Homo sapiens: one gene and its partners. The protein of the gene in region 6 purifies or fractionates together with the protein of the main gene of each other region. This does not show direct contact. Each region holds a gene or a part of one and is shown on either strand. Other genes may lie near its edges.

The links.
Region 1: the proteins of MCM5 (region 6) and PYGB purify together in Homo sapiens (affinity purification with mass spectrometry, with the first as the bait; one large-scale study listed by BioGRID). This does not show direct contact.
Region 2: the proteins of MCM5 (region 6) and CAP1 fractionate together in Homo sapiens (co-fractionation; one large-scale study listed by BioGRID). This does not show direct contact.
Region 3: the proteins of MCM5 (region 6) and FKBP5 purify together in Homo sapiens (affinity purification with a luminescence readout; 2 studies listed by BioGRID and IntAct, with this or other methods). This does not show direct contact.
Region 4: the proteins of MCM5 (region 6) and SF3A3 purify together in Homo sapiens (affinity purification with mass spectrometry; 2 studies listed by BioGRID, with this or other methods). This does not show direct contact.
Region 5: the proteins of MCM5 (region 6) and NUDCD3 purify together in Homo sapiens (affinity purification with a luminescence readout; one large-scale study listed by IntAct). This does not show direct contact.
Region 7: the proteins of MCM5 (region 6) and JUP purify together in Homo sapiens (affinity purification with mass spectrometry; 2 studies listed by BioGRID, with this or other methods). This does not show direct contact.

The regions. Positions count from the first base shown.
Region 1 is NC_000020.11:25,282,264-25,286,279, forward strand, and holds part of PYGB (glycogen phosphorylase, brain form), read left to right. Parts: intron 1-912; coding exon 913-1,014; intron 1,015-1,840; coding exon 1,841-1,988; intron 1,989-4,016. UniProt on the Homo sapiens protein: Glycogen phosphorylase that regulates glycogen mobilization. Phosphorylase is an important allosteric enzyme in carbohydrate metabolism. Enzymes from different sources differ in their regulatory mechanisms and in their natural substrates.
Region 2 is NC_000001.11:40,057,414-40,061,429, reverse strand, and holds part of CAP1 (adenylyl cyclase-associated protein 1), read right to left. Parts: intron 2,097-4,016; exon of another isoform or gene 2,094-2,096; 5' UTR 2,084-2,093; coding exon 1,972-2,083; intron 1,364-1,971; coding exon 1,260-1,363; intron 1-1,259. UniProt on the Homo sapiens protein: Directly regulates filament dynamics and has been implicated in a number of complex developmental and morphological processes, including mRNA localization and the establishment of cell polarity.
Region 3 is NC_000006.12:35,640,416-35,643,915, forward strand, and holds part of FKBP5 (peptidyl-prolyl cis-trans isomerase FKBP5), read right to left. Parts: intron 2,429-3,500; 5' UTR 2,410-2,428; coding exon 2,305-2,409; intron 1-2,304. UniProt on the Homo sapiens protein: Immunophilin protein with PPIase and co-chaperone activities. Component of unligated steroid receptors heterocomplexes through interaction with heat-shock protein 90 (HSP90).
Region 4 is NC_000001.11:37,983,311-37,987,326, forward strand, and holds part of SF3A3 (splicing factor 3A subunit 3), read right to left. Parts: intron 1,470-4,016; coding exon 1,397-1,469; intron 951-1,396; coding exon 859-950; intron 1-858. UniProt on the Homo sapiens protein: Component of the 17S U2 SnRNP complex of the spliceosome, a large ribonucleoprotein complex that removes introns from transcribed pre-mRNAs.
Region 5 is NC_000007.14:44,389,659-44,393,674, reverse strand, and holds part of NUDCD3 (nudC domain-containing protein 3), read left to right. Parts: intron 1-1,189; coding exon 1,190-1,378; intron 1,379-4,016.
Region 6 is NC_000022.11:35,420,124-35,424,139, reverse strand, and holds part of MCM5 (DNA replication licensing factor MCM5), read right to left. Parts: intron 2,823-4,016; coding exon 2,680-2,822; intron 927-2,679; coding exon 799-926; intron 1-798. UniProt on the Homo sapiens protein: Acts as a component of the MCM2-7 complex (MCM complex) which is the replicative helicase essential for 'once per cell cycle' DNA replication initiation and elongation in eukaryotic cells.
Region 7 is NC_000017.11:41,769,700-41,773,715, forward strand, and holds part of JUP (junction plakoglobin), read right to left. Parts: intron 3,228-4,016; exon of another isoform or gene 2,891-3,227; coding exon of another isoform or gene 2,848-2,890; intron 2,558-2,847; exon of another isoform or gene 2,494-2,557; intron 2,164-2,493; coding exon of another isoform or gene 2,156-2,163; coding exon 1,948-2,155; intron 1-1,947. UniProt on the Homo sapiens protein: Common junctional plaque protein. The membrane-associated plaques are architectural elements in an important strategic position to influence the arrangement and function of both the cytoskeleton and the cells within the tissue.

The DNA of each region.
Region 1 (4,016 bases), on a different chromosome or scaffold from region 6:
GACCTGCAGGCTTCTGGACATGAGGGCTGAGCCCCTGAACATGGGCGCTGAGCTGGGCAGTCACCCATTGGGCCTGGCGGGTCCTGTGTGCGAGTTCAGAAGCCGAGCTTTAGGGAGGGCTGGGGTGTGGCTGAGTGCAGCCACGGGGCCACTGCAAAAGAGTCAAGAGGCAGCTGACTGCCAGCTAGGCTGGGCACCTATTTCCTGTTTGTATGTTGGCTCCTATGCAAGCTCCCTGAGGAAATGAGTGCTGAGGTGTCAGGCCCTGCGCTACAGGCAAGGACCAGCCGCTGGGAGGGTGGGACCGCCCACCTGGGGCTATGGTCAGGGAAGCCTTCCCAGGAAAGCTGAGGTCTGAAGAGGGAATGAAGAGAGAGTGAGCAGTGCTCTGGGGCAAACTGGTTCAATGCCCTGTGCTGGGGGACGGGCCCCTGGGACCTGGAAAGCAGCGTGGCTCCTGTGCAGTCTGAGATGGGCCTGGGTACAGTGAGGAGAGGTGGCCGAGTGTTTGCAGGCAGCACCTGGGTGAGGTGCTGGCTTTGAGGGGACCGCCTGCTTCAGGCAGGGAAGGTGCTGGTGGAGGGCAGCGGGAGGATGGCTTTGGGTTTTGGGTGGTGATGGGATGTTCAATGTCAGAGAACCCTGGGATCGGTGGCTGAGGGAGGGTCGTGTGTTTCCTGTGGACGTTTGAACTGGTGGGACTGGGCCATCTCGCAGAGCCCTCTCAGAAGAGGAAGGAGGGGCTGCTGGGGTAACCCTGTGGCCTGAGAGGTGGGATGCCCGGAGGGGCCGGACAAGCAGATCCCAGGGGAAAGCAGGGGCGTGGGCAACAATGGGAGGAGGGCAGGTGGCTAGGGGGCCCAGCCTCAGGAGGCTGAGGCCCACAGTGAGCGGAACCTTTACGTTCTCCAGAAAATTGGGGAGGAGTTCCTGACTGACCTGAGCCAGCTGAAGAAGCTGCTGCCGCTGGTCAGTGACGAGGTGTTCATCAGGGACGTGGCCAAGGTCAAACAGGTAGGCATGGCCCTGGCCCCAGCCCCGACCCCAGCCCTCCCACAACCAGGCAGGTAGGCCCTGGCCCTAGCCCTCCTACAGGCCCAGCACAGGTCCTGGGGTACCCACTGGGGCTTTAGTGGGGACTCAGAACAGGACTGAGGGTGAGGCTGTTAGGGTTGCCTGAGGTCTCTCCACCCCACTCAGCCTTTCAGATGAGGGCCCCGAGGAGGACAGGTCACATGGCAGATAGGTGAGTGCAGACCCCAGGCCAGCCCTGCCCGTGCCTCGACCCTCTGCCACAGGTCAGTTCTGTATGGAAGCCTCTAGAAGCCGATTCCAGCGTGGTACCCTCTTTGCCCCTGGAGAGCTGTGCAGGTGCACGAGCTGTCTGCACCGGCAGCAGCCTCTCGGCTAGACCAGGGCCAGTCACGGCAGCCTTCAAACCTCAGCGGGCTGGAGGCCCATCTACACAGCCTGTCGAGCTTGGCCTCCTCATAGAGGCCAGAACTAGTTCTCCTTGTAGTCCTTTCAGCCGTCCCGCTCCCGCGCTGCTCCGCCGCCTGCACGCCTGGCTCTGCAGTGTCTTCTGCTTGGCTCCAGGCGTGCTCCTGGGCCGGCTCCTCACTTATCCCCTACTCTTGGTGTGGACCCACCTTCAGCATCCCCCTCTCCCCTTTTCCCATGAGAAGACCCCTGGTGCAATCTCTGCCCCTCAGCTCCAGCCTGTATACCCCTGCCCCCTCCCTGCGGCACTCTTCACAGGGCACTTGAAGCAGGAAGCCGCAGGGTCAGTGGATGGAGTCCTGGTGAAGTCTCCAGCCATCTTTCCCTTTCACCCTCCCAGGAGAACAAGCTCAAGTTCTCGGCCTTCCTGGAGAAGGAGTACAAGGTGAAGATCAACCCCTCCTCCATGTTCGATGTGCATGTGAAGAGGATCCACGAGTACAAGCGGCAGCTGCTCAACTGCCTGCACGTCGTCACCCTGTACAATCGTGAGTGCCGGCATCACCTGCATGACCGCGCTGTGGGGCCCAAGGCTTGCCCTTGCCCGCCAGCTGTGCACAGACCCTGGGCCTCTGTCATGGTGGGGGCTGTGTGTGTATAGGCGTGTGCATGTGTGATGTGGCACGTTTATTTTAAGCAAAAGCCATGTTTTTCTGTGTGCCCCATGCCAGGCCTCACGTGAGCAGGTGAACAGTTAGACACCCGAAAGGCCCAGGCTGGAGTGCAGTGGTGCCATCACGGCTCACTGCAGTCTTGACCTCCAAGGGCCCAGGAAATCCTCCCACCTCAGTCCCCCAAGTAGCTGGGACTACAGGCGCACGCCACTATGCCCTTGTATTTTTTGTAGAGACAGGGTTTCACTATGTTGCCAAGGCTGGTCTCGAACTCCTGGCCTCAAGTGATCTACCCACTTCTGCCTCCCAAAAGGCTGGGGTTATAGGCATGAGCCACTGTACCGGGCCTTCAGTTTTTATTTTAAATTTAGTTATTATCTTTGTGAGACTAATCTTATTTAGAAAGATTATGCTTATTAGAGGCATTTAAAGTATACTTACAAAAATTAAGATAGTATGTGTTAAATTTACACATGCATCTTATATGTCTAAGGACATTTAATTATGAGACAAACATGAAACAGAGACCCCCAAAGGTCAATGTGAATATTTGCTAGGTTTAATAGATAATGAAACCTTAAGGAAAAACTAGGTTTCTAAAATTTTGTAATTTAATAAAGTAGGTATTTTAAAAACCAAAGGAACCACACATCCTCCTTTCCGATACAAAGCTCCTCCCGGGAATAGATCTCCTATTCCCAATGAGTAAGCCTCGATGGGGTGGAGGATCTGGGTGCGTTTGAGACACACATGGTAGGACAGAGGCTAGAGGCCACCCCCGCTGAGGACCCCTCTGCCGTGTGGGCACCACGGGAGGTGCTTCCCGGGGCTGTGGCTTCCCGGCTCCGAGATGGTGCACGGGAACTTTGCATCATCTTTCCTTGCCCCATTTTCCTCCTGCAGTTGTGATGCTCTGTGTTCCCCTGGTGGTGACCCGGAGTCCTCCGCTTGCACAACGCTTGGTCCTATTGATGAGCGGCAGTGAGACTCGCGGGTCACCCCCTCCCTTCCTCCCGCTCCACCACCCCCACAGTCAGTTGCTGCATCGTCTTTTAGTGTTGGCCTTCAGGCTTTCCTCCTCCCGCTCCGCCACCCCCAGTCGTCAGTTGTTGCATCGTCTTCTATTGTTGGCCTTCAGGCTTTCCAGATGCTCCACTTCTGCTTGGTTGGTTCATTCGTTTTGAACGACACGCTGTGATTTCCAGCCGTTCACAGGAGGCAGCCAACAGGCTGGTGCTCGCTCCCACTGGTCTTCCCCCTTGCTCCATGTCTGTGTGTGCACGCATAAATGTATATGTGTGCATGCCTGTAAACATGTGTGCTTGTGTCTGTGCATGTACCTGTGGTGGACCTGCGTCTCCTTCCCCCACTGTCAGAGCTCACAGCATCAATACTTTGCCCTTCCTCCTGTCCCCAGCTGTATCAGTTTGAGTCTGGTGGTGAGTATGTTCACTGCTTCTCACGGTCCTTCTGCAAAGTGCTGCCCAGCCCTGCTGGCCACTTTGTGTCTAGTTCATGACTGGCTCATGGGAACAACCTTCCCGAGTTCTTGCTTGTTCAAAACGGCCTGGACCCTTCACCATGAAGGTCGGTTTGGCTGAAGATGCCAGTCTTAACTCCACTTCCTTCCCCCAGTGCTTTTTAGGGCCCTACCGGGCACTGTCTGGAGGGTGGGTGTGTGTGCAGAAGTCTGGCGATGTCTGAGTTCTCGATCTCATCAGTGACTCACTGTCATTGCCGTGTCTTGGTGTTGGCCGTTACAGGGCATTTTCGCCAATACTCCGGGTGCTTGTTGAACGTGTTGCTGGACTTCAGGGAAGTTGTCTGTTTGAAACGTGTGTTTGGTTCTGTTTGGTTTTCTGCTTCTGGGCTGCAGTGTGGCGTGAGGTGGCTTTCTCTGGC
Region 2 (4,016 bases), on a different chromosome or scaffold from region 6:
CTATTTCACATCAGCAAAATAAAACAAACAGCAACCAAAAAAACACCTTTCTTTTCTCAAAAATTGGAGACAGGAGTAAAGGCAAAGGCCTAAATTTCTGCTGAAAATTCTCAAGGTATTTACTCCTTTAGATTAAAGCTATCTCTCAAATGCCAGATACCATGACCCATTAATAAATAATTAAATCAATTTAGTGAGCTTAATGGAACAAAAGTATGAGTGCAGTGCACCAACTTCAAGTTATTTCCAAATAAAAAGTTAAAAAAAAAAAAAGTACAGCAGAAGTAGTATAAATATCATCTTGTGAAACTTTTATCTCAGTTACGAATATGTTCTTTCTTTCTAAGGGTCATTCGCAGTCAAAAGAATTTAAGAAACATGAGACTGTAAGCACTATTAAAATACAAAAATTCAAAGAAAGCAATCTATTTTTTCTGGATTTGCATTTTTAAAATACAAATGATAAATGTTTTAAAGTTTTTTCAAATGTTACAGAACTGTATTAAGTAAAAATGCAAGCCTCCACACCCTTATTAAAGTCCCAGTCCCACTCTCTAGAGCTAAAACCATTGGCAACAGATGGTATTTGAGAGGCTCAAAATAGATTTTCCAAAAGCCAAGCAACCAGTCTTCGAGAAAGGTTTAGGTGAAGAAGTTCCCAAGCATGGTTACTGTTTATAATTCGGTGAGCTAGCAGGAAGGTTTTTGGGTCCCAAAAATAGAGGTAGAATGTATATGTGAGTGTGGGGTGGGGGTGGGGGGTGGTGGTGATGACGTAGGAGGCATAAAGGAAGGTGGGAGGAAAGGCACCTGTCATTGCCTACTTCATATTCTTGCTGTGGGTTAAGTGTGAAAATAACCCACATTAGCATAACTAATAACTATCAAGCATAGTTTTATAAATGCTAAGTCATGATAATGACTCCTTTAAATAAGCCACTGTAGGTTTGATTATGTAATATGTTGGGATCAAACTGGTGCATATTCTTCACTACAAAGATGAACAGAACCATATTTTATGTACCAAGCAAGCTTTCTGTATAAATACGTGATAAAAGCAAGGGGCCTAGAAAAAAATGAGGAATCGTTTCTGTGGCTAGACTGAACTCCTCAGTACAGGCAAAAGAGAAAGAACATGTGTAATGCCCCAAACCAAGAGGAACTTCTCAAGGAGCTCTTAAACCAAGGATGAGGACCTTGGCTGACTGAAGAAAGCTGTTAGTCCTTAAAAGAAGGGGAAAAAGGCAAAACATCCTTACATGTTTCTGCACGTCTCCCCCAATCTCTTTACTGATCTTCAAGTACTCTGCCACAGGACCAGCAAGCAGCGAGTCAAATGCCTGCACATATGGAGCTGCTCCTGCTAAAGACAAACACACCACAAAGAATCAGCCATGCATCAGAAGGAGGCTTCTTTAAAACGTGCTTCTACATGAAAGTGGGGAGGCAAGGTAATACAGTCAACAGGATACAGAACAGGAGTAAGGAAACCTGGGTTCCAGGTCCAGTATCACCACTAACTGGTTGTGTGACCCTGACTAAATTCCTTTTCCTCTCTGAGCTTAATTTTCTTTATCTATAAAATGAAAATAAACAAAATGATCCTCCAAGGTTTTTTTTAGTGCTAACATTCTATGTTCCAACTGGTGCATGTGCAAAATGTCCAATTTGCCAATTGTTTGGAGAGAGGAATTTTATTATCACTTGTCATTTGACTTACATTGGAGTCATTCTGCTAAAGAAAGAGCAGGAAATATTGCACAAGCAGGAAGTTCTTGTGTTAAAATAACTTAACCACAGGCCTCCCTGTACAAGTCATTTCCTCTCTTATCTGTTCACAGCAATACAAATTACAAAAGGTAAACTTTCTAGATTAAGTTTTGGGAAGTTAGCGCCAAAGGAGAGAATAATAGAAAATTTTCAGGCCAAGACGCTCAAAGAAAGCATTCTGCTGGGCTGTGGACTGCTTACCTTTTGAAGGACTGTCTGCATACCCACGGTGCATGTCAGAGGTATGAGATACTGCCTCCAGGCGGCCCACTGCCCTCTCCAATCTTTCTACCAGATTTTGCATGTCAGCCATAATGGACCACCTGCTGAAACAGATCAAATGTCATTTGTTATTTAAATATTAAATAGCACCTACAGAGAAAAAAACAGAAAATTCCTGGTCATCCCCAGGTGGATGAAGAGGATGCCAATTCTCAGGAACAGAATAATTTAATAAAATTAGATATCATCTGCAAAATGGAACAATACAAAAATATCAGATAAAAAAGTAGCATATTTACAAAATCAAAAGACCTCATTAAGCAAGAGAACTGCTCAGGAAAAGGTGTTCACTAAAGTAAATGCTTACTCATTCAAATACTCAATATTTACTATGATACTGTGTGTAGAAAGTTAGAATTTGCAAAGGATAGTCACATACATTATCTCAGTTTGAGCCTCCCGACAACTATTCAGGAATAGAAGGATGATTACTACACGCTTAGAGATAGAAAACTTAGTTTCAGTGAAGCTAAATGACTTGTCTAGTCACACGGCCAGTGAATAGAGAAGCCAGTACTCCATCATATCCTTATCTGATCCTTCTGGTTCTAAGTTCAGTGTGTTTTTTTCCTACAACATCCTGCTGCCTGCATGTGAAATATCCCAAACCAAGATGAATAGGATGTTTACTCTTCCCTCAATAATTTTTTTTTTTTCAGACAAAGTCTTACAATGTCACCCAGGCTGGAGTGCAGTGGCAGGATCTCAGCTCACTGCAAGCTCCACCCTGTTGGGTTCAAGGGATTCTCCTGCCTCCCAAGTAGCTAGGGTTATAGGTGTGCGCCACCATGCCCAGCTAATTTTTTGTAGTTTTAGTAGCGACAGGGTTTCACTGTGTTGGCTAGGATGGTCTTGAACTCTTGACCTCAAGTAATCCACCCGCCTTGGCCTCCCAAAGTGCTAGGATTACAGGCGTGAGCCACTGTGCCCGGCCTGCCCTCAGTAATTTATAGTCTAATGGGGAGACTTAACATATGCACTAACAACTATGAAACAAATAGAAAAAAATGTTAAGGTGACATAAGAAAGTTGCTGATAGAGAGGCATGAGATTTCAAAGAGGGGAGTAATATATCAGCTGGAAGGATCAGATAAGGATATGATGGAGAAGCTGCCATTTGAGCCAGCCTTCAAATGAAGATGAGAAAGATCTGGACATGCAGTAGGGAAGGACACTAGACACATCCAAAAGAATTTGTTATAGATCTTTCACAAGTACTATCTTATCTGAAATAGCCTAATTCAATGTCTAATATCCCAAAGAAAGTAAGCTCCAACAGAGAAAGGACCTTATATAGCTTGTTCCTTACTGTATACTCTACCATCTAGACTACTACCTGGCAGGTAGTAGATGTTCAATAAATATTTATGAAGTTATAAACCTCACAAATAGCATTCCAAAACTCCAGAGGGATAAGGGTGCTAAAAGTTGCCCATAAGTCACACATAAGTGTAAAATATGATCAATGCACCTCTACATAAAGTATTTGAGACCCTAAGTGATCTCATAAAAACCAGTCAGTGAAATTTCAATCCAAGCTTTGACTTGGAAAGATTCCATTTCACAAAAGCGTCAATTCAGGCAACTGAATTCAGTTCAGGTAACTGAAGCTGAATGAACTCAACTCCCTTGAAGCTGCCTAAAATGACAACAGCAATTATGATTCCCCCAAAGATGACAGCATGCCAGAATTATCTCAATTTAACACATTGTCCTCCCTGTGGAAGAGATAAGCAGCTCACAAGATAAAGTAAGGAAGACAATATAGTCTCTGTCCATTCTCTGTGTACAGGCTCTGGTCTCTGTGGGCCCAATCACTTGTCAGAGAGTGTTGTTTAAAAGAGAAGCAAAGAAAAAAAATGAGAATGAGAACCAAACAAACCTTTCCATTCCTTGGCCTGCAGCAGCAGCAGAAGCCTCCAGGTCTATGTCCTACTCTCAAATAGAGCAGACCATAAGCAGTC
Region 3 (3,500 bases), on a different chromosome or scaffold from region 6:
AGAACACTTACCATGAATGGAACTTGCAGGACTGGAAGTTGTTCTGGATGAGTCAGCGAGTGAGCAGTGAGTGAACATGAAGGCCTAGGATATTACCATACACTACCGTAGACTTTATAAACACTGGACACCTAGACTACATTTATTTTAAAATTTTTCTTCTTTCTTTAATAATAAATCAATCTTAGCTTACTATAACATTTTTACTGTGTAAACTTTTTTTTTAGCTTTGACTCTTGTAATGACACTTAGAACACAAACACTGTACAGCTGTACAAAAATATTTTCTTTCTTTATATCCTTATTCTATAAGCATTTTTCTGTTTTTTAAATTTTTTATTCTTTTACTTTTTAAACTTTTTTTTGTTTAAAACTAAGACACAAACACATACATAAACCTAGGCCTACAGAGGGTCAGGATCATCAGTATCACTGTCTTCCACCAACACATCTTGTCCCACTGGAAGGTCTTCAGGACAGTAACATGCATGGAGCTGCTGTCTCCTATAATAACAATGCCTTCTTCTTGAATACCTCCTGAGGGACCTGCCCAAGGCTGTTTTTTGTTTGTTCATTTGTTTTTGAGACAGGATCTCACTCTCACCCAGGCTAGAATGCAGTGGTATGATCATAGTTCACTGCAGCTTGGAACTCCCAGGCTTACATGATCCTCCTGCCTCAGTCTCCTGAGTAGTAGAAACTACAGGTACATGCCACTATGCCTGGCTAATTTTTTTAATTTTTTTTCTACAGATAGGGGTCTTACTATGTTGCCCAGGCTGGTCTTGAACTCCTGGCCTCAAGTGATCCTCTTGCTTTGGCCTCCCAGGGTGCTGGGATTACAGGCATGAGCCACTGCACTCAGCCAAGGGTGTTTTACAGTTAACTTTTTAAAAAATAAGAAGCACACTCTAAAATAATGATAGAAAGTATAGTAAACACATAAACCAGTAATATAAACATTTATTATCAAGTATTATGTACTATACATAACTGTGACTGCAGTGCAGTAGGTTTGTTTACACCCACATCACCACAAACACATAATACACTGTACTACCCATGCTACAACAGCTATGGCACCACTAGGCCATAGGAACTTTTCGGCCCCATTATAATCTTATGGGACCACTGCTGAAGGTGCAGTCTGTCACTGACTGAAATGTCATTATATGGTGAATGACTGTATAGTGCTTTAATAAGTAGGAAAGCTAATTCAAAAGTAAGATATATTCTAAGAGGAAATCGCAAAAGATATCTTCACTGTACACAGGAACAATATTTATATATAAAAATAAACCCCTTTGGGCCGGGCACGGTGGCTCATGCCTGTAATCCCAACACTTTGCGAGGCCAAGGCAGGCGGATCACCTGAGGTCAGGAGTTCAAGACCAGCCTGGCCAACATGGTGAAACCCTGTCTCTACAAAAATTAGCGAGGCATGGTAGCAGGCGCCTGTAATCCCAGCTACTCGGGAGGCTGAGGCAGAATTGCTTGAATCCAGGAGGCGGAGGTTGCAGTGAGCTGAGATCATACCACTGCACTCTAGCCCAGGCAACAGAGGGAGACTCTGTCTCAAAATAAAATAAAATAAAATAAAATAAAATAAAATAAAATAAAATAAAACCCCTTTGAATTTTTCAAGTTAGCTTTTCTTTCCTTAAAAAGTCTTCAAAATTGTCATTAGCTAGCTTTAGTGTACTAAAAGGATACATTAAAATAGTAACCTATTTGTATACTCTGAGAATAGGGAAATATAGCCCTTTAGAGTGAGATATAACTTGGACCTGAACCCCAGGTAAATCTGCATTACTAAGATATATGATATTAGGCAAGTTAATTTACCTAGCCCAGTCTCAATTTCAACATCTATAATCTGGGATTAAAAATTAAAATCTCTAGCTGGGCACAGTGGCTCGTGCCTATAATCCCAGCTACTCAGAAGGCTGAGGTGGGAGGATTGCTTGAGGCCAGGATTTCAAGACTTGCCTGAGCAACATAATGAGATGCCCTCTCTCAAAAATTTAATTAATTAATTTAAAAAGAAAATCCCAGCTACTCAGGAAGCTGAGATGGGAAGATCACTTGAACCCAGGAGCTCAAGACCAGCCTGGGCAACATAACGAGACTCAACTCTTAAAAAAAACCTTGAAGTTATGAAGACAAAATGAGAATCTAGCTCTAGTGTTTGGCACTTAGTAACCATCAATAAACATTATCCACCCCAGCCCCCCTCAGAAAGAGATGCTATAATCTTTCCAGACAGCAGGTTTCCTTGTATGTCACTCAGCTTTGTGGCCTCACCTTTAATACTCCCCTGTCTTTTTTGGAGGTAATATCCTCTCCCTGCTCAGCAACAGTGGCTGTGGGGCTTTCTTCATTGTTCTTGGCACCTTCATCAGTAGTCATTGTCTTTTAAGTAGAGAACCTGGTAAGAAGAAAAATATTTTAGCTGGGAAAAATATCACTTCTTTATGAATCTTGAATGTCCCTGGGAACTGAGCTCTACCTAACCTAAGATTTACTTAGGGCCAATAAGCTTAGATACTGAAAATGAAAACAAAGGCATTTGCTATGAGCATGTATTGATGTCATCAGGCATGTAAATAAAACATCATCCAATTCTTTAATTTCCCATCTAGCTCTGGTCTCAAAACAGAGAACAGTACAAGTCAAGTTGGGTAGTGATTACATTCCTTAACATAACATGGTGAGAAGCAGTCCCTTCACAACTTTGAAAACATCCTTTTTCTACAGCCATATTCTTGACAGAGGATTAAGACCTTATCAGTTCTTAATAAAAGAAGTGACAATATATCAATCACAGTGAGACACAGAACAGGATTTAGAATCCAACAGACCCAAGTCTGGGTCCTAGCTGCAGCTCTTGACATTTCCAGTTTCCTTAATCTTGCTGAGCCTTCATTTTTCATCTGCAAAATGGACACAGTACACTATTCATAGTTACAGTGAGATAACATTTCTTAAAAGATTAGCATAGATTGGTAACTTAAACATATTTAACCATTTATCATCATTATTGGGCCTTCTGTAGGGTCATTTTTCATCTCCTGCCCAAAATACCTACAGAATGTTCTTCCATGTGGCATTCAAGGCCCTTCACAATCTGGCCCTAATCTATCTTTGAGTTCTAGCTGCCATTATTTTATTTTACTTTCTTTCATGCAGCTCATGCTCCAGCCAAACTAGGCCAATTCCACCTCTACAACAAACCCAGTGCTTTCCCATAGTCATTCTTCTGGTCACTCCCTTTCTTGTTTCCAAAACATCCACCTCTCTCAAATCCTACTTCTGTCATACCAACCTTGACCCTCTATTTGTAGGCCATTTTGCCCTTTTACGTACTTCCTTAGCTCTTCTCTCGATTTGTTGTCTGTAAGAGATTCATAAGACTATGCGCCTGTTAGGTTTAAAAGATCCTTCAGAGCAAGGTCCATGCTTTGTTCATATTTAGATTCCCTAGAATGCCTCTACCTTTG
Region 4 (4,016 bases), on a different chromosome or scaffold from region 6:
CAGTGGCTTCCGTCTATAATCCCAACACTTTGTGAGGCCAAGACAGACGGATTGCTTGAGCTCAGGAGTTTAAGACCAGCCTTGGCAACATGGCAAAACCCCATCTCTACACAAAATACAAAAAATTAGCTGGGCATGGTGGCACACGCCTGTAGTCCCAAGTACTTGGTGGGGCTGAGGCGGGATCCATCACTTGAGTCCAAGAGGTCTAGGCTACAGTGAGCCAAGATCGCGCCACTGCACTCCAGCCTGGGTGACAAAGTGAGACCCTGTCTCAAAAAAAAAAAAAAAAAAAAAAGATTTATTTTGGCAAAGGTAAAATATGCTTGCTGTATTGATAATGGACTGGGTACAATGGCTCATGCCTGTATCCCAACACTGTGGGAGGCCGAGACAGGAGGATCATTTGAGGTCAGGAGTTTGTGACCAGCCTGGGCAACACTGCAAGACCCCATCTTTACAAAAAAAGACAAAAATTAGCCAAGTGTGGTGGTGGTATGCACCTGTAGCCTCAAATACTCAGAAGGCTAAGGCAGGAGATCACTTGAGCCCAGAAGTCGAGGTTGCAGTGAGCAAAGATCATACCACTGCACTCCAGACTGGGCAACATGGTAAGACCTCATCTCAAAATAAAAAAAAAAGTATTAATAAATAAATATGCTTCTTGTTTTCACTGTAGAAAACTTTCATTTTGAATAGTATTTCATTCCAAGAGAGCATATCACCTCTTTAATATTTACATAAGAGTTTTAAAACACAAGGAAGACACTTTACAATGGCTTCATGTCTGCTAGTTCCAGCCTACTGTCCTGACTCACTTCGAGAATCAGAACCTCTCTGCCCTTTCCCAGGCCTTACCTCAGATGCCTTCAGGTTAATGTACTTGAGGTAACAGTCATGGAGATCGAGATAACGACCATATCCCTCTTCATCTGTGAACTCCACCAAGTCTGAGGGAATCAGATACATCAATGATTCAGTTTCTACAGACCACTCTCTTGGACTTACCTTTTCAAATGGACTGTGTGTTCCTAGTTTCCTGAGGCAGCACTTCACCCAAATGTCTTCCCTTTGCTCACAATATAACCTCCAATAAGTTAAGTGAGATCAAAAGTGAGTTTTCTCTTACAAGGTAACAAGGACTGACTCATTTTAGTATTGTGAACTAAAGTGAACAATCCTTGGCTTTCCAAGCCAGTAAATTTGAGGTAGGAGAGAACAAAATGAACATTTTGCCCAAGACCAACTTAGGATGTCACTCTAGCCCAGAAACCAGCAAAGACAAAACCAGCAAGAAATCCTGGCTATAAATATCTCTGAGGCCATGGCTGCAAATCTGAGCTGTCATTAACCTGTATTTTTGCTGGTGCTGAATGAAATTTTCACCCCTACTTACTTTGTGCCTCTTCACTTGGATTCTCTCGAGCCTTCAGGAGTTCCTCAAATTCCACTGACATTGGCACACAGATCTGAGGGGAAAAGTAAAAGCTCAGGTGGATTTTTCTTTTTGCTTTTGAGATGGATTCTCACTCTGTGGCCCAGGCTGGAGTGCACTGGCACAATCTTGGCTCACTGCAACCTCTACCTCCCGGGTTCAAGCGATTGTCCTGCCTCGGCCACCCGAGTAGCTGGGATTATAGGCACACACCACCACGCTTGGCTAATTCTTGTATTTTTAGTAGAGACAGGGTTTTGCCATGTTGCCCAGGCTGGTCTCAAACTCCTAAGCTCAAGTGATCTGCCCACCTTGGCCTCCCAAAGTGCTGGGATTACAGGCATGAGCCACTGTGCCTGACCGCAGGCGGATTTTTCAATGTAAAAGTTGCAAGATCACAGAAATGAAATACACAGAAAGTTGGACTTCTGATGATTTATTTGGCCTTGATTTTTCACTAGGAAATCTACTACTGTTCTCCAATTACCTTGTTTTTCCCCGCTTTTTTGTACTGTTTGAGTAAAACCCACTAAAGTAACACATGCTCACAAAAACTCAAAAGTCCACCTTTATTAATTCTCCTGAGAACAGGTGACCACTGTTAACAGAGCTTTTGCTATGCCAGTGGTTCCCAAACTTTGCTGCACATTAGAATCACCTGGGGGAGTTTTTTTTTTAAATCCTGATGCACCTGATACCAATTAAATCAAAGGAGGGCAGGTATCAGTACTTTTTAAAGATCCCCAGGTGGCTCAAATATGCACAAAGTTTGGAAAACAGTGCTCTATGTATTTAAATATATGTATTTGTACAAGTACATTCATGCCTGCATAGGTTTTTGTTTTTGTTTTTTTAACATAAAAGACTTGCGTCTGACATTTAGTATATCTTGGGCATCCTTCTAATCAGTTATTTAAGCATTTATTCCTCATTACCTTTTGACCATGGCTGGAATAAGGTTAACACATCAGAATGGTATTCATTTATTCTCCCTTGGTTAGCAGAAGACCTCATTCTCTATCCTCCAAGGGGGCTATGTGTGTGAGGGTCCCTTCATTTACCTCCGCGCTATGTATTGCAATAAACAGCCTCTATTTTTTGCTGTTTTTAGTCTCTTCCTTTTTCCCTGTGCTCCTTCAAATAAGTATGCTTCTCTGTCTTCCCCAATACCCTCCTGTTTCTCCCCTTCTTTTTCCTACCAGACTTTTTTTTTTTTTTTTTTTGACGGAGTCTTGCTCTGTTGCCCAGGCTGGAGTGCAGTGGCGTGATCTCAGCTCACTGCAACCTCCATGTCCTGGGTTCAAGCGATTCTCCTGTCTCAGCCTCATGAGAAGCTGGGATCACAGGCGTGCACCACCATGCCCGGCTAATTTTTGTGTTTTTAGTAGAGAGAGGTTTCACCATTTTGGCCAGGCTGGTCTCCAACTCCTGACCTCAGATGATCGACCCGCCTCGGCCTCCCAAAGTGCTGGGATTACAGGCGTGAGTCACTGCACCTGGCTACCAGCCTTTCAAATGCATGTTCCATACTCCATACTTCTACTTCCCCATTACCCATCTTTACCTTGTGACCAGATTTCCATTCATACTACTTTAATGAAGCAGCAATCCTGGCAGATATAAATCAATAACAGTTGACACCATGACTGCCTTTCTGAAACTCTCTTTTGCTTAACTTCAGTAAGGCAACACCACCTGGAGTGGTCATGTGACCTTTCTGATGGAAGCCTTCCCAGGCCCTTTTTCTCTTTACCTTATTATAAGTGAGCTCCAGGGCATATGAGGGCCGGGCGCGGTGGCTCATGCCTGTAATCCCAGCACTTTGGGAGGCCGAGGTGGGCGGATCACAAGGTCAGGAGATAGAGACTATCCTGGCTAACATGGTGAAACCCTGTCTCAACTAAAAAATACATAAAATTAGCCAGGCGTGGTGGCAGGCACCTGTAGTCCCAGCTACTCAGGAGGCTGAGGAAGGAGAATGGCATGAACTCGGGAGGTGGAGCTTGCAGTGAGCCGAGATCATGCCACTGCACTCCAGCCTGGGCAACAGAGCGAGACTCCATCTCAAAAAAAAAAAAAAAAAAAAAGACAGAGTTAGGAACACAATTTATTGGGGAGAGTAATTTCTGTGAAAGATAAAAAGGAAGAGAAAGTAGGATTAGGACAGGATAGCCTAGACCACAATGCAGATTGGACAAAATCTTGACCAACCCAACGGGGAGCCATGGAGCAAAGATTATTCATCAGAGGAGTCTCAGAGTGGACCAAATTGCTGGGCCCTAGTACCCATACTGTGCTCAGTCACTGGCTGGGAGCTGCCCACAAAATGTGGCCTTGACTTCTTTTTTTTGAGACAAAGTCTCACTCTTGTCCCCCAGGATGGAGTGCAATGGCGCAATCTCGGCTCACTGCAACCTCCACCTCCCAGGTTCAAGTGATTCTCTTGCCTCAGCCTCCTGAGTAGTTGGGATTACAGGCACATGCCACCATGCCTGGCTAATTTTTGTATTTTTAGTAGAGGTTGAGTTTCACTATGTTGGCCAGGCTGGTCTTGAACTCCTGACCTCAGGTGATCCACCCA
Region 5 (4,016 bases), on a different chromosome or scaffold from region 6:
ATGTGAATGTACCTCTTTCAATTGTAAATATTATGAAATCTAAACACAGATCAAGTATTTCTGTTGAAAAAGTGCAGTGCTCATCTAGGGCAAAGTAGACAAACCCACTCTGTTGCTTCTTGGCCACTCTGGTAAGAATTTTGAGCCCAGCCACTGACCACAGCAGATGCAGCCAGTTTTCTTGTTTTCTGTGTCTGTATGACCACTGATAACAGGGCATGGTGTGGCCAGGGCCCTCCTCTGTGTCCCTGGGACAGGCCAAGCAGCCAGGGTCACCTAGGTACATACAGCACCCCTCACGTTTGCTCTCATACTGCAGTTCCAGTTGTCTTTTAAGTTTTTATGGTAATGACATGAGTCTCACAGACCCCAACACTGAGGGCTGGATCTTAAATGCTGGGTGCTGCTTCCTTTGACCAAGGGATGTCTGTGCCATCCCCACAGAGGTGCCCAAGGAGGCCTCTTTTGGGGTTGTTTCTTGATGGTCGTTTCTCCTTCCCAAGCCATCAGAGAACTTTAGGGAATGGGGCTGGAGGACCCCCTCATGCAGCAAGCTTGGCCCCAGTGAGGAAGAAGTGGGGACAGGGCATGGTGCCCTGTCATGGGGTGAGGACTCCCCAGGAGATTCTGTCATGCATTAGGCTGAGCCCTAAGTCTCATAGGTCCCAGCTTACCCCTAAGATAGCAGAATGTTGGATGTTGCTCTTGGAAGCAAGAGAGATCACTGGAGAGGTAGTTGGTTGATAAGAGCTAAGCAGAGCCTTCCATGGCAAGCATGGGGGCAGGCTGGGTTGGCCCAGGACAGGTCCTGGTGTGGGGGGGTGTCATGGGTCTTGGAAAATAGCCTTTCTTCATGAGAGTGGGCAAGGTGTGCACATGGAACAGGCACTGTCCTGAGTATCCAGGACCTGCTGAAGAAGGATAAAGGCATCTTCCAGAATGTCAGTCCCCTCAGGTATGTGCCTCCTAGCTCTTCCCTGGGATATGTTAGCACAGGCAGCAAATGCATTCCCAGGCACAGAGGGTCCTGCCTTGGGTTCTGGCACCCCCTCTTGTCTGTCACCTCCCTTTGTGTAGTTGGTCCTGAGCTTATCCTGGACACCCATCCCTCAGTGGGCTCTGCTCTGTCCCCAGCCCTGGACACCTGTCTCAGGTCTCTGACTCAGGTCTCTGTCCTGCTTGTCCCCAGGTGAACCTGAGCAAGGTGGGCGAGTATTGGTGGAACGCCATCCTGGAGGGAGAAGAGCCCATCGACATTGACAAGATCAACAAGGAGCGCTCCATGGCCACCGTGGATGAGGAGGAACAGGCGGTGTTGGACAGGCTTACCTTTGACTACCACCAGAAGCTGCAGGGCAAGCCACAGAGCCATGAGCTGGTACGAGCATGGCAGTCCTGGAGAGTCCACCCTTTAGGCCCTTGTGCTGGTGACAAGGCCGATAGTGGCAGAGGGGTTGGTGATGACGGTGGGGAAGAAGGTTGTGTGGACCAGCTTCCTGCCATGTCCTAGCCTAGCAAGGAACCTGTCTTACCTGCTCTTGTCCCCAATCACTGCCTCACAGGTGCACTCTGGTCTTTCAGCTGTGTTCTCATACCTGGGCTGAGAGCCCAGTTAACAGGACCTCGAAGGGTGTCATGAGATCTGCCCTTCCTGCACCAGAGCCTGGTAACATCAAGTGTGTTGATGGCTTTTGTTTGTGCCTCATCTGCACATATCTTCCCATGAAGAGTCGCTTGGTGGGACCTTTGGTAGAGGAGGGGAGGGAGCCAGATTGCAGAGCCAGTTTCTGGATGTTGGAGGCCAGCATGTGAAGACTCTGTGATGTCAGCAGTGGGTTAGGGAGGAGGAAGAGAAAGGTTCCTGTCTGACCAGTGTAGTGCCCAGTGTAGAGTTTGCTCATGGCCAAAGAGAATGATTAATTAGATGTATACATTCTTTCTTCCTATTTTAATAACTCCAAGAGTAGCTATTTAGGGAAAAAAGGGTTGCTTTCCTCAGATTATTTTTAACTTCCCGTGTCCCATATACCCAGCACGTGGGTTTGGGCCGCAGTACAGCAGGGCACGCGGACGCAGTGCAGCCTTGAGTCAGTGGGGAGGGGTCATCTGCTGGGCACAGTCTCCTTATTTTTGTTCTGTAAACACGGACCGCCTCCTCCCCCTGAAGATCGCTGATCGATATTTTCTTCTCATTTTGTCTCTTGGAGGAACCTTACCTTGTGGTGTATCTGGATTGTCTTAGTCTTACCTTCCGGTACAGCACGTATTAATACATCGTAGGTGGTTCTGCAAGCCCTGTTGCTGTGTCTCGTCCGTTCTTGCCTATTTTCACAGACAGGTGCATCCTGCTCTTATGAGGTGAAGGAGCCTGCGGAGAGGAGTGTCAACATGTTCTCCTCACCTGGCCCTGCCACACCAGGGGCATGTCCTGAGCACTTAGTACACACAGTTAAGGTGGGGTTGACTGGCTGCACAGTACCCCTGAAAATACAGTTTGTTTGTTTTTTGTTTTTGTTTTTGTTTTTTTCCCCCCACAATAGAGAGATTGAATTTCTGAGGTTGTGACTCAGTAGCTTAGGCAGCAGGGATGGGGTTTGACCTCTGATTTGATTTCACACCTGTCTGTCCTCACAGCCCTGTCCACCCTGGCCCTTGTCTCTATGGAAGAGAATGTTCCTCTAGGTTTGGCCCCCTTTTCCACCCGGGGCATGGCAAGCTTAAAGGACATCTTTGCTTGGCCTACGTCCATGCAGAGTTTGAAGCCTCAGGTAGTATTGCAGCACCTGCTCAGCTGAGCTCAGCTCAGGTGCTTAGACAGCCAGACCTGCCTGGTTATGGCTCATTCCAGTTATGCTGCATTTGCCTGTGGCCACTAGATGAAAGGCCAGCCTTTGAACCTTTGCCCTGTGGGTAGGGCTTCTCATGGTAGTGTTTGGGGATGGTGTATGTGAGGGTCTGCCCACTCTGTGCCCATATTCAGCATTGGGTCCACAAAAGGACTGAGATGTATTCATGAGTTGACCTTCGGGAGAAAGAGTCTGTTTTGACTGGAGAACATGAACCCAGATGCCTTTTGTTCCAGAAAGATAAGAAGGCAGTCTTACCATGTACCCCTTAGAAGTGTCTTTTTGTGCCACAGGATGGAGGGACTAAGGTCAGGTGGTTTCTCACATCTTCCCCAGACACTGACACTGAGCCTTTGTTACAGAGAGATGATAAAAATTATTGTAGTTTGAATGGTATTTGTGCGTTTGTCAAAGCCTTGATGAAGTTTTTGTAGACTTTATTTTATTTTATTTTTTAAATTTTTTGAGACAGAGCCTCGCTCTGTCACCCAGGCTGGAATGCAGTGGTGTGATCTCAGCTCACTGATACCTCCGCCTCCCAGGTTCAAGCGGTTCTCCTGCCTCAGCCTCCTGAGTAGCTGGGACTACAGGCGCACACCACCACGCCCAGCTAATTTTGTATTTTTAGTAGAGACGGGATTTCACCATGTTGGCCAGGCTGGTCTCGAACTCCTGACCTCAGATGATCCACCTGCTTTAGCCTCCCAAAGTGCTGGTATTACAGACGTGAGCCACCACGCCTGGCCAGTTTTCTGTAGACTTTAGCTGTTGAGGCATGAGAGAAGCTAGGATGCTCTGGCTGTTTTTATCTGTGAGCCCTCATGTTTCCTGTGATTGTATCTCTTACAGAACTTTATATTCAAAAACAAAATAGCAGGAATACCTGCTCATCATTGGAGTTGCCAGTAGTGCCAAAGACACGCATGGAGGTGTCAGGGGCTCCACCAGCCTTTTCTTCTCTACATCCTTGCCCCTCCCCTTCCCTCCTTTCTTTCTGTTTCCCTTTTCTTTCCCTTACATCCTCCCCTCTCCTTGACCTTCCTCTCAGTCTCTTTCCCCCATCCTTTATGTTCTGTGCCAACACCTTGTAACATTGCATAGTCTCACCCCTCTATTGGGGCACGTCGGTGAGGAAGACAGACACAGATCTGCCTTTGTGGTGCTAGGATT
Region 6 (4,016 bases):
GGCTGGCTAACGGCACGTGCTGCCCGAGGGGACTCCGACAGAGCCCAGACATCCCCAGGCTCACGGGGAACTTTGTACTCAGGCTCCTTTGACCTAAAGGGCCCACACTTCCTGAGTGCCCACTGTGTACCAGACACTGAGGCACACGGAGGCTAAGCCACTTGCTCAAGGTCACAGCAATTAAGAGGTAGAGCTGGGACTTAAGTCCCATCTGACTCTAGAACCGAAGCTCTAAACCTTTCTCTAAGCCTCAGTCTGCGCACCTATAGAATAGACACGATACCACCCATTAAACTGCCCTGAATCAAAATGAGATGATGTACAAGGAGCGGAGACCAGAAACTAGGATTAATCCTGAGATTTTAAAGGTGACAGGTTTTCCAGAGCATCTGGGAAATCCCATCTTCTCTCTATGGGGCCAACAGTACCCTCCTCAGTGAGCCAGAAAGCTCACTCTCATGGCTCTGCCCCTTCCCACTCCATGAAACGCCCGCCAACGGGGAAAGGCACAGACGGGAAGGGCTGCGGGGAACTTGTATGGGGTTTCACCAGAATCCAACCACCTCTGCTCTCCCCTCCCCTTCGTGGGACAGAAAAAATACCCCCATCCCTGCTCCTGATGAAGATGTCCCTAGGGAAGGAATGATGGCTAGAAAAGGTCTGAGAAAGGGACAGTTGTCCATCCTACCCCCGTTCAGGGCCTGTCTGCTGAGTAAGATGCCAGTGCTGAGTGGGTGGGAACCAGCAGAAGACCTGCACCCCGTGCCGGCTCACACCCCCACTCCAAGGCAGGCTCACCTGCTTGGTGAAGTCCTTGATGATGCTGTGCTCAGACACCTGGGAGCCAATGGCAAAGCGGCGCTTGAGCTGCTTCTCGATGCGGCTCAGCATCTCCTGGTCCTCCTGGCTGGTGAAGCCCTCCACCCCTGTGGGCATGGAGAAGTGAGGCAGCCGGGGAGCTGGGACAATGGGAGTTCTTGGACAGAGACAGCCTCTAGCCCAAGGAAGAACAGCCTGAGCCAGGCCCCGAAGAGTAAGTCAGAAAAGGGCACCGAGTGTGCCAGGGTGGTGCAGGCCTGATTGAGGAGACAGGATATGGCACATGTGGGGACACTCCAGGCCAAGCACAAAGTCACAGAGGCAGGAACACACCTGTCTCATTCAAAAAGCAGCCCGGGGCCCAGCGCAGCAGAGACATGGCCAGAGTGTCACTAGGGACCAAGTCCTGCGGGCCCTTGGAGGCCACAGCAGGACTCCTTTTGTTGCTGGAGCAGATAGATTAGAGAGAGAGTTGGAAGGGGCCCATCAGTGACCCAGGAGGGAAGCCAGCCTGCCCTGGACACATCTACGAGGTGCCCTGAGGAGCCCTCGGCAACCAGGAGGCTCGTGACTTCCAATTACTGCCACAGAGGCCTTGGTGTTTCAGCTAAGGAGATGGTGGGCTCATGGTCAAGAAGTCATTGAGAGGGGAGTCTGTGAGGCAAACTCCTACATAGCCCATAAGACCCAACTCAAATTATCACCACTCCATATCACCCCTGCCCTCTGTGCCTGCAGCATCCCAGAGGCCTCCACCTGCAATGTCTCATGTGACAGCAAGTGTCTCCAGGGTAGAGGCTGAGTCTTCACCAAGGGGGACAGGAGGAACAGGCCCCACCCACCCCATTCCTCACCCAAGTGCCTCCCCATTCAAATGCACCAAACCTGCTCCCTCCTGGGGAAACTGACACTTAGCGCTGCCTCCACCTGAGCAGCTCTTCCCCCAAGGAGCCACACTGTCCCCTTCATGCAGCTCCCTGCTTGGCATCACCTCCTTGCAGAGGCCATGCCCACTCACTCCATGGGAAAGAGCACGTCCTCCTTTTCCAACACACCTGGCCCTGCCATCATCTCCCTCACTGCCTTTTTCACTACCTACACTACCTGCATTTGTTTCTCTACTGTCTATCTCTCCCCAACTAGAACGAGAATGAGAACCCAGGAGGGCCGGGACCCTGTGATTGATTGCTCTTATACTCCCAGCACCTAGAACAGTGCCTGGCAAACAGTAACACTAATGAAGTATCTGCTGGGTGAAGGAACAGATTTTCCCCAGCGTAGGTAGCCTGGCTCATGATCGGTGCCTGGGACAGTCTGTTGAAAGGCTGACCGAAACCAGACAGTATGGCTTATGGTGTGGAAAACGCTGGCCTAGGGGCCAGGAGACTTGCATTCCAGCCAAGCGACTGTGATCTTGGGCACCAGGGAAAGGCCCCTTCGAGTGTCAGCTGTCTCATTTCTAACATGGGCAGGACTGACTGCTCACCTGGCTTCCAGGGGGCAGCTGTAAGGCAAAATGCAAGAAATAACTCTGGAAGCACTGAAAATGCTGACAAGCTCTAGGAAGCAGAGCATCAACTGTTGTTCCTAGCCAGTGAGAAGGGTTATCATCAATGACCTGGGTCAAGAGGATTGTGTTCAAGGGTCTGGAGAGAAGCTGCTTCTTCCCATCTTGGAGGAAACAGCGGTGGGGAGAAAGGAGGAGAGGGGTCTTATGGCAAAAAGAAACTCAGAGAAGCTCAGCAAACTCAGAGAAGCAAGACACACACTGCAGGCCCCCAGCAGGCCAGAGCCCTGCCCACAGAGCTCCGAGCCAGGGAACCCAGATCAATTGAGACCATGGCCCCTGCATCTGCTCACCTGACAGGGTACCGGACAAGGCAGCATCCAACGTGGACACTTGGAAGAGCCGCAGGGCCTCCTCCACATCTGCCTCTGTGGCGAAGGGCTGCAGCTTCATCTTGCTGAGGGCTTCCGCGATGCGCACAATGGCCTCCAGCTGCCTGTGGGGGCAACAGCGTGCTCAGGGTAGCCTCGGTCCGCTATTCCCTTCCTCCCCAGCCAGCCCGTTACCAGGGAGGTGCTTGCCCAAAGTGGTAAGACTGTGGTGGAGACTGCTAGGTGTCCCCATAATCCATCTCCCTTTTGATCTTAGTCATAGAACTGCAATTTTTTTTTTTTTTTTTTTTTTTTGAGACAAAGTCTCGCTCTGTGGACCAGGCTGGAATGTAGTGGCATGATCATAGCTCACTGCAGCCTCGAACTCCTGGGCTCCAGTGATCCTTCCACCTCAGCCACCTGAGGAGCTGGGTCTACAGGCATGCACCACAATGCCTGGCTAATTTTTTATTTTTTGTAGAAATGGGAGTCTTGCTATGTTGCCCAGGCTGGTCTCAAACTCCTGGCCTCAAGTAATCCTCCTGCCTCAGCCTCCCAAAGTGCTAGGATCACAATGTAGGCCACTGCACCTAGCTTGGAACCCCAGTTTTTAGTCTGGCACACAGCGATCCACTAAAACACATCCCAGACATCTTTTGTACCAGGTTGTATTTGTGTGACCAATCTATGGCAGTAAGTTGTAAGTCCAAGCATTGTGTGGGACTTCATGAAGTGTCCTTTAAAAGGGAAGCTCTCTTTCCTTCCTGTCCTGCTGCCTGGAGGTGATGGCTGAAGTTCTAGCGGCCATCTCGGACTAAGAGTAAGGGGGAGCTTGAGGAGTCCTCACACCAGTCCCCATACCATCTTCCTCCAGACAGTGCTACAGAAAAGAGAAATGAACTTCCTATTTCTTTAAGCTACTTTATCTGGATTTACCATTACTTATAGCCAAATCCATTTCCAACCAGTCAGTGCTGGAGACAGGATTCAAACCAGGTAAATCCCAACTCTTACCCACTGTATTGTCTACAAAGTCACAAGAATGAACAGAGTTAGGAGCTAAAAGCACTGAGGGCCAGAGAAGGAATGTAATTTCCCTACAGTCACACAGTGGGCTAGAGGCTGGGACCCAAGACTCTTGACTCCCAGGCCTGGGTCCTTCCCTCCCTTCGGGCTTCCTACAATGGGAGAAGCCAGGCCAAATTCAGACAAGAGGGGTCTAGGTTTGCCCGGCCTTAAATCAAGAAACATGGATCATCATTGAGATCAAGGAGGCCATAGTTTATGCTCCAAAGGGACTCTTCCTGCCCAGAGCTACT
Region 7 (4,016 bases), on a different chromosome or scaffold from region 6:
CTGAGTGCAGGCAGTGGGCTGGGCAGACACTGGGGAGCAGGGCAGGCCACAGACAGCCCCACCTGGGTCCTCTGGGCTACCTCTTGCCCTGCCCAAACCCCCAGCACATGACTGGCCATTCTACCTCTCACCAGGAACCTTGGGGAAGTCACCATCACCTCAGTAATCTCTGTAAAATAGGCCCCACATGTTCTGTCCATCAAGGGAATTTTTTTTTTTTTTTGCACACTTATTATGTGCCTGGCAGTGAATTCAATGCCCTGCTTATATTTTCTCACATAACCTGACAACGACCCTGCAAGGTAAGTACTATCACTGGCTCCACTTTACAGATGGGAAAACTGGGCACAGAGGGGTTATAAGGCAGCCTGACTCAGGGGCCCAAACCCCTACTCTATTCTCCTCCCTTACCCATCAGGTCTGTTTTCAACCCTGAAATCTCAGGAGTCTAATTACACCCTCATCATCCCCAACGGTAGCAATCCTCCCACTATACAGGCAGGCAAACAGAGGCCCAGAGAACCACCAACATCACATCTCACAGCAGATCAGAGGGAAAGTCAGGGCTGTGGGTTCAGAGAGCAGGAGCTGGGTCCTCAGCTGAGACGTCAGGTTCCTCTCTAGCTTCCATCCCCTGGGTGGGTCTGGGAGTCCCACAGGTAGGTGCCCAAGCAGCCACACCCTGGCAACTGTCCTGATGCCCCCAGGGAGAGGGACGCAGAGGTTCCACCCTCTAATTAGTCGAGAAGGAGGAGACAGCTGCATGGCTTTCCCACCTGGATGCTGTACTTTTTGCTACCAACACAGTGCCTGGCCCTGCCAGCCAAAAGGCCCCCTGCTACCCCTACCAGCTGTCAGGGAGGAGACTGGCATGCGAGGGCTGAGCTCCATAGAGCCCCACCAGCCACAGTCTACTCACACTACTCCCAGCACCCACAGCCCACCCCCTGGCATGTTCAGGGCCCTGGAGGCACCTGTGGCCAACAGTTCTAGGGCCTGGCTATTCCTCTCTCCCAGAGGGGCAGGGGAGGCTTGGGCTGGCGGGGCATCCCCATCCCGGACTAAGCCCCAGAGCTGAGTCAGTCACTCATCCCACAGCCTTGGCCTATCTGCAGGTCAGCCGCAGAGGCCTGGTCTCCCTCCAACCCCAACGAGGGGCCCTCAGGCTTGACACCTACACCCCTCTACCCAAAGGGGAATCCCTGGGGGTTCCTGGGGGCTACGGCCCTGGCTCTCCCACAAACGTGAGGCTCCTGCAGCCAAAGGGCTGCGTCCTCCCTGCCATCCATGGGCTCCCTGAGAGCCATAGTGATACATCCTCATCAGACTCTTTTTTTTACTATTTTTTGAGACGGAGTCTCACTCTGTCGCCCAGGCTGGAGTGCAGTGGCGCAATCTCAGCTCACTCCAACCTCTGCCTCCTGGGTTCAAGCAATTCTCCTGCCTCAGCCTCCCAAGTAGCTGGGACTACAGGTGCATGCGCCACCACACCCGGCTAATTTTTGTATTTTTAGTAGAGACGGGGTTTCATCATGTTGGCCAGGCTGGTCTCAAACTCCTGACCTCAGGTGATCTGCCCACCTCAGCCTCCCAAAGTGCTGGGATTACAGGCATGAGCCACCGTACCCAATGTCTTCATCAGATTCTTATGTTCACAGAAGGCAAGGACTATGGCTTTTCCTTCAGACTGGAGGCACCCTAAGGGCAGGGACTATGCCTTCCCTCCCTACTGATGGTTCACAGAAGAGGATTCTGTGACCCTCCCAGATGCAGCACCCTGAAGTAGCTGCACCTCCTCCTTCAGACTGGGTGGGCCCCTAGTTAGCATGAGCTGTGCCTCCTCCCTCAGACCAGAGACCCCCTACAATCTGCCTCCTTTCACTCTGACCTCTCTCCAGGACCCAGGCAGGTTTTCTGCCCCATGCAATAGTCCCCAGGGGTCCTGACCTTGGCTGGGGGGCACCCCCTGGGTGTAAGTGGTGGTTTTCTTGAGCGTGTACTGGCGCCCGCAGGCCTCATCCTCCTCCATGATGCCCTTGCTGCTGACGGAGGGCACGCAGGTGTTGGCGCCCGAGTGGATACCCGAGTCGTAGGTGTATGTCTGCTGCCACTCAGTCACCTTGATAGGCTGCTCCATCAGGTTCATCACCTCCATCGTGGCTACTGGGGGCACAAAGGAGGAAGTCAGGAAGCAGGAAGTCACCTGGCCCAGCCCCCAGCTTCAGCCCGTCACCAAGCCCCGCCTGTCTTCCCACATCATCACCATGGCCCAGGGATTTCAATGAGGATGCAGGCTGGGGATGGGGGGACTGCCCAGAAGGGCACCAGGCCCAGGGAGGGGCTGCCCACGACGAGATACCCTGGGAGCAGTGAGCCCCAGGGGTGCGGCTGTGTGTATGTCCTGGGCTTGCATCTCTGACCTCCCAGGGGGATGAGCCCCAGGGGGCAGGACAGTCAAGGGCCAGCTGCCGCCAGAAGCCCCTGCTCACGCACCTTGCTGCCCTGACCCAACTCTCCCAGGGGCAAGAGAAGGCACTCAGGGCTTCTAGCAGCTTCTGAGGTCCCCTGGGCCCACCCTCAACTACTGGGGCTCCCTGGGAAAGGCTGCAGGGAGGAGGCACCCAAGCCATTGGGCAGGAAACTGGGCGGGGCAGGGAAGCGGTCTGACAGGTTTCTCTGGAGCGCCCCAGGCTCCCTCAGAGACTCCAGGATCTGGCTTTCCTACAGGTTGGGCAGGATCACACATGGCCCTGAGGTCCAGACCCTAAGGCCCCCTCTCTCCCAGCCCTCCCAGTCCCTAGACGCCTCTTTGAGTCCCACAGAGCAATTCAAATCTCAGCTACTCACTACTGGGGCAGTTCCTCTCCCCACAGAACCTCAGTGTCCTCATCTGTAAAGCGGGGTCACGCCACCTCCCTCAGAGGTGGTTGCGAGGACCTGGTGCATAGCAGGTGCTCAGAGGCCACGGCCATTATCATCAGCACTGCCTCTCCTCCAGAAGTGCTTCCTCACCTCCTGGTCTCCTCGAGCCCAGGCTAGGGATCTGGGGTGGGGCAGGCCTGTGGGTGGTCACTGCCGTCAGGAACCCCTCTCTCTCTCTGCAAAGGTTTAGGCGCACCTGAAGGTTAATGAGTAGCAGGGCCGAACTTTGTACCAGGGAGGTGAACTTCCCGCTTGGTCTGTGTTTGGCTCCACTGTCCTGGGAACTGACCTGCAGAGGTCAGAGGCTGCGGGGAGAATGGACGCCGTGATCCCATGAGGGCCTACTACGAGCCAGACCTTTCACAGACACCGTCATGCTCATGGGCGGGTTTCAAAGCCCATGCACTGGTCCCCCGCGTACAGATGCAGAAACTGAGGTTAGAAATGGCAGAGCTGGGACTGGGACCAGGTGTGAGGGCACCAAGGTCTGTAGTCTTTGCACATCCCGGCGCAGCCTCAGTGAGTAAGCAGAACTCAGGCTGGTCCACCCATGAAGCCAGGCAGCACCCGGGTTGTCTCACTGTGATGGGGACCAGGTGAGGGTGGGGTGGCTGGGGCAACCTGGCCCCACCCCAGGAACAAAGATCACCAAGGATAAGTCTTCCCTGTGACTGCCCCAGTGCCGCCCTGGCCCTCCAGGAGGATGACGAATGGTCCTGCAGGTCTCCCAGCCTTTTATGGCAGGCAGCCGTGAGCACACCCGGAACAGGCAGAGGCAGGGGCCAGGCCAGCTCCCAGCTGCCTCCTTCCTCTCCTCCCGCAATCCCTAGTGACTCAGAGTTTCAGGCTGATTAAACAGAAGCAGTCCCGCCACCTCAGACGGCAGACCCCAGACGACAGGCTCGGGCCGCCAGATGTGCACAGCTGCTTCCCAGGCATTCGAAAGTGTAGCTATTTCAGAAGGAGCCCCCCCAACCAGCCCCCTTTCCACACGCACCCCTTCCCCACACCCCTTCCCCAGCAACAGAGGGGAATGGCCACTGGCAGGAAACAGGGGCAATGGTGGGGGGCGGGGGGCGGGGTGCTCGGAGAAG